2 separate regions of the Homo sapiens genome follow, and region 1 is linked to region 2. Evidence: fine-mapped expression QTL. A gene starts in region 2. The other region holds a variant in brackets. All regions are shown on one strand. Distances are between the middles of the regions.

What was found.
Region 1: its variant is fine-mapped to the expression of NLRP9 in gastroesophageal junction (GTEx, PIP above 0.99). The same link has a PIP of 0.9 or more in sigmoid colon.

The regions. Positions count from the first base shown.
Region 1 is chr19:55,707,330-55,710,249 of GRCh38, forward strand. It overlaps EPN1 (epsin 1), which reads left to right. Exons shown (of 11, transcript NM_001130072.2): 11 at 1-2,204. NLRP9 (NLR family pyrin domain containing 9) reads right to left here. Exons shown (of 9, transcript NM_176820.4): 9 at 1,109-1,715. The coding sequence ends at 1,583. It also overlaps the pseudogene VN1R106P. Among named protein-coding and RNA genes, the nearest start is that of NLRP9, 30 kb to the right of the region's middle. The variant C/G (reference allele first, on the strand shown) is at 1,550.
Region 2 is chr19:55,736,541-55,739,460 of GRCh38, forward strand. It overlaps NLRP9 (NLR family pyrin domain containing 9), which reads right to left and starts at 1,862. Exons shown (of 9, transcript NM_176820.4): 1 at 1,555-1,862. The coding sequence starts at 1,834. It also overlaps the pseudogene RN7SKP109.

The sequences.
Region 1 (2,920 bases), 29 kb before region 2:
GACCCTGACTCTAAAACAAAAGAAAGAACAAATAACAAATGAAAATAAATACCCAAAAACCAGTCAAATGTGAAACTGGTGTCAGGGGTATGTTCTCCATGTTGAGCCCCTTCTGTGGAATATGACAGTGTCTCTATTTCGGGTAAAGGAAAGACCAAAATAACTTTCCAAGATGAAAAGCTAAGAGTGCTGATCTCATCACAGACATAGCCAGCTCTTCAGTTCAGACCACCTGGAAACCCTCCCCATGTCTTTTCAGAACAATGTCCTAAGAACCATAGGGGAAGTGGCCATAAAAACCATCTTTCCTTTGCAGACTGGGGTGGGGACTCTGGCCAATGCCATTCTGTTCTTCCATAATATCTTTCCCATCTTGACTGAGCATCAAATGAGGCCCACACACAAGATTCTCACCCACATGGCCGTGGCAAACTCCTTGGTTCTTCTTTCCACTGGAATCCCCCACACAATGGTGTCTTTTGTCCTATGGAAACCCTTGTCCAGTCTTGAGTGTAAACTCGTGTTTACAGGTCTTAAAGTCCTGACCTGGTGATCCGCCCGCGTGGACCTCCCAAAGTGCTGGAATTACAGGCGTGAGCCACCACTCCTGGCCTATGCCAGCATTCTTTAAAGTTGTGGGAAAAGGCCAAAAGCAAATAGAAAATTGGGCAAAAAAGTTCATAATTGCTTAAACATATGGAAAACCTGGAAGTAAAATTAAGCAAGTAAGTGCGAGCACTCTACATTGAAGATTATAGAAAATTCAGCCTCCCAAATATCCAAAGAATCCAGGAGTGTGCCAAGAGATCCAAGAGTAGGTCCACAATTTCTCATTCTCAGGAGAATCTGAGATTATATTTCAATCTAATGATAACTGATTATATAATCCAATTTCTGCATCATCTTGCTTTTATGTTTTGTAATAAAAATTTTAGACCAGGCCAATAAGGCATCAGCAATTTACCGTAGGGAACTAGGGAATGTTTAATTATGACAATGAAGTGTTTAATATTGTGTTTTGAAATATAAACAGTGTAGATATATTTGAATAATACTGAATTTTTAGAAAAATCTATTGGGGTGTCATATATAAAAGGATAAGTAGAGATTTGGAAATGCTTTTTTATTGGACAAGAAAATTGATCAAATCGAAATCTGGACAAACTAGAAAGTCTGGATGCTAGCAATACAATCTATAGACACATTCTAGCATCACTTCTGTGTCAGAAGTATCCGGATTGTGGTGCCTACAAATGCATGCTCCTACACACCAAGACATCCATTAAGAAAATAAAGCCATGCTTTCCAGAGCGTTTAGCACTTGTTTAACGTACTTGTGCTTCTAAATATCACAAGGCAGGATGGGATTTCTAAAGACAAGGGGATATAGGACCGAGGCAAAGACAATCAGCATGTACACTGAATCACACTCCATAATCATATTGCTAGAACACTTAGGGAGTACCTCTGAAATCACAGCCCTGCTGCCATGATGTGCAATTACAGGATAGAGGTGCCAGGTGAAGGTCCCACTGTGGCCAAGGAAAGC[C/G]TTTGTGAGACGACTACTTCAGGGTGTTCCCCATCAGAGGAGCACACCCCTGATCTTGTATTCCTCGTCAATCCAAGGTCCATGTGAAATGGTCAGATGGGGAATTTTTTCTTCCACAGACATCAGGATCTTCTGAGTTTCTTCATCAAAGCCAGATTTGTGCAGCCTGGGAAAATAGAAATAAAGTTTTTTTTTTTGTTTTTCATTTTTACACAGTATTGCCTCTCTACATTCTGATGTCTACCTCTCCTCTCCTCTTTATTCTTTCCTAGAAATCACTGGGAGAATTGTACTGAATTTGAAAAACAAGCATGAATCTTTCCTATAGGATAGGAAGCCTCTGATTTATACCATAAAGTGAAATTTCATATACAGGATGTATCAATTAAGATTTAATTCAAAAAAGATGAATTTAAGTTAAAAAGAAAAACACAGGATAACTTCCATTCATCTGATGTTCATATGCCCTGGCACATCTATTGCTTCTTATAATGTGCTTGCTTAAAAAAAAAAAACATGAGCTTTTCTCAGAGACACTAATATAATGAATTCATGTACCCATCACCAACTTCTACAATTACCAATATTCAGCCTCTTCCATTTACAACCTGCCCATTTTCTAAGAAATAATTAAAGCACATGCTACACCCATAAATATGTCAAACGTTCTTGTCTGTTTTCGCTATTTTCAGTTCCTTTCGTGTCATTGTCCCCTGAACCCACCTCAACAAAGCTGGTTTTTGTAGTCACCAATAACATCAATTTGTTAAATACATTCTATCCTACTTACCCAGTTAGCATTGAATACAGTTAATTACACTTTCTTGTTTATTTTTTCCCTTAGCTTACTGGACACGACTTCCTCCTGGCTTCTACTCCCTCAACAGCTATCGTTCTTGCTTTATACGTTGAATCTCTGTCTCTTTATAACTTCTAAATGTTCTCAGCATCAGGAAAATATAAAAAATAAGTTCACAAATAATTGGTAAGACTGGAACATAGGCCTTCCTGAAAGAATATAACTAACATTTGCAATTCTCTTCTCCCCTCTCCCGTGTCCTTCCTTCTTGCCAGGTGTTCATAGTTATATGCCTTTTTATCTCCAATTATAAAAAGAAGTTGAGGAGGATTAGCAGGTCACAAAATTTCGTAGACATTTAGACACAGGAGAAGTAGGAGTTTATCTTAAATCTTCAGAGGTAGGGAAGATGGCTAAGTTTCCTTTCAGCTACAGCGACACTATGAGAAAGTTACCCAGAAATAACTGCTCTGAATGCTTGCTACTGTGGAGATGACATGTTTTGGGTGTGGGGATGGTGGTTGAAGAGAAGGGAGACATTATTATTATTATTTTATAATGCAGGCCTTAAG
Region 2 (2,920 bases):
CGAACCACACAGATAAAGAAAACTGGCACACACCTGTAATCACAGCACTTTGGGAAGCCCAGGCAGGAGGATCATCTGAGGTCAGGAGTTTGAGACCAGCCTGACCAACATGGTGATACCCCGTCTCTACTAAAAATACAAAAATTAGCTGGGCGTGGTGGTGCATGCCTGTAATCCCAGCTACTCGGGAAGCTGAGGAAGGAGAATCGCTTGAACCTGGGAGGCAGAAGTTGCAGTGAACCGAGATCATGTCACTGCCCTCCAACCTGGGCAACAGAGCAAGACTCCGTCTCAAAAAAATAAAACAAAAACAAAAAAAAAAACAAAAAACTAACACAGCAAGCAACTCCAAACCAAATAAAATACCCTCAAGCATGTGGGGATACGAAATAAGGTCTCAAATTAGAATTACCAACACAAAGAAGAAACATGAACAAAACAGAAGTAAACGTAACAGAAGTTGATGGAACTCAAAAGTAAAGGGAGAAGATAACAATCATCAGAAACAAATGCTAATTACTAGATACCTAATAGGGAATATATTTAGTTTTTCCTAAGTATCCCCCGAGAGGAGGGTGTAGACCCCATCAATGAGTCCAGCAGAACTGGTTCGGAGTCAGATCTGTCACTTTTGGAAAAGTCATGTAACACATGGGAACACTGTTTTGTCCAGTTTTCTCACTTGTAAACCTTTCCTGGGTTGTGATAAGAATGAAAAGACATTATGCAGAAAGAATGCTTCCAGGACGTGAGGACAACCTGGCTGTGATGTCTGTCACCCCATTGGTCGCCCCAGGGCTAATTCGGCTGATGTGGCCAGCTGGGTGGGTGTCCACTTCCTCCCTCACTGCTCCATATGCGTCCGTCCTGAAAGTCTCCCCTGGGTCAAAGACGATGACAACCTTTGCCCATAGAGGAAGGTCCTTCCATCGCGGGCAGAAGAGAAGCTGTGCTCCCCTACTAGAACCTCCAAACAAGCTCGCAAGAATGCTTCCTGTAGTACCCGGGACATACGCTGTCTGATTGTCTTAAGATTCTACCTACTCCTTGGTACATGTCTGGTCAAAAAGGACAGGCAGTTAGGCATGGTGGCTCACTCCTGTAATCACAGCACTTTGGGATGCCTAGGCAGGTGGATCACTTGAGCCTGGGAGTTCAAGACCAGCCTGAGCAACATGGCAAGACCCTTTCTCTAAAAAAAAAAAAAAAAAAAAAAAAAAGATAGGCAACTACCATACTAGAATTCCATCTCAGTAGACCTGGCAATGCAGACACTAACTGGCCACTCATCTCCTATAACAACGACTCCACTTGGGGTGGAAAAATGGGAAGACACTCCATAGGTGAACAGTTGGTATCAGGACGCCATCTGTCCCCAGTTCATCGCTGGCCCACATATGAACAGCCCTGGCCTGCAACTCTTCCTACCTTCAACTCTCACCTTGACCCACACACATTCTCATCTGATGGAGGGGGTGGCCACTCATTTAACAATGCTATCACCTTGTTCCCAGGCTTCCCCCATGGGTCCTCGCCCCATCATCCAGCACTTACTTCTCATCTCTTCCTGAGCCTTTGTCCAGAGATCTTTCCTATTGATCTGTAGAAACAGGTTCAGTGTTACCTCCCATGCCTGCTTTCCTGGGTAATGTTTGTCCAGCAGCTTTGCTACATCTTCTTTGGAGGCCTTCTTCAGCTCAGCCCAGGGGATTGGCTTGAGTTCAAATTTCTCCAAAGGTTGTTTGAGGAGCTCCTTAAATTTCCAAAACTCTTCCTTTCTGAGCTCCTTCAGATACCACAACAAGCCAAAATCCGAAAAAAAAGATTCTGCCATATCGCCCCAGGATTGTGAACTGAGGTGTCTCCAGAGGGAAAAGAAAGATCCTCAAAAATAAAGAATAAATGATACCTGGAGAAGAATGACATGATTACAGAGTTAAGCTTCAGCAGCTGAAAGCAGCTCAAAATTATTGATATCATCATGCGTAGCTTGCACCAAACATCATCTAGGGAAGAAGCTTCATCTTTTTCCAAACAAATGCATGTGAATGGTAGAGTTGACTGCCACTTATGTGTCTTGTTTTTGTCTGACATAAATGATGCTTCCAGGAACAAGTGTTTTTGTGTAGTTTGGTGTATATAAGCACACATTTCTCTAGATTTATAAATTATAGGTCAAACAGCAAACACAGGTCACCATGTTTGCTACATAACACTCAACGGTTTTCCCTTGTGTATATAATTACTGACATTCCTACCAGCATTCTATGAGTTTGTTTGCTCTGTAGACCTTCCCATCCTTAGTATAGTCTAATCCAATTTTGATAATGAAAAAATGAACGGATATTAAAATTACAGATGATCACATTCAGGAAGATGAAAATAAAGGAAGAGGACATAAAAGCAAATTTAAATTTTTTTTTATCGTTTAGTGGTATATGCCTTCTTTTTTTTTTTTTTTTTTGAGACAGAGTCTCGCTCTGATGCCCAGGCTGGAGTGCAGTAGCGCAATCTCGGCTCACTGCAAGCTCTGCCTCCCGGGTTCACGTCATTCTCCTGCCTCAGCCTCCTGAGTAGCTGGGACTACAGGTGCCTGCCACCACACCCGGCTAATTTTTTTGTATTTTTAGTAGAGATGGGGTTTTACTGTGTTCGCCAGGATGGTCTCGATCTCCTGACCTCGTGATCCACCCGCCTCGGCCTCCCAAAGTGCTGGGATTACAGGCATGAGCCACCGTGCCCGGCCGGTATATGCCTTCTTATTACAGTATATAAGGAAAAAGTTAGATTTACTATAGGTTAGCATCTGCAGACAACTCAGACAGAAACAGAGCAGTGAACGTTCCCAGTATTATAAACCCTTCAGATAATCATTGCAATTCAACAAAAGACAGGAAATGAAGTAGAAATATATGGTAGA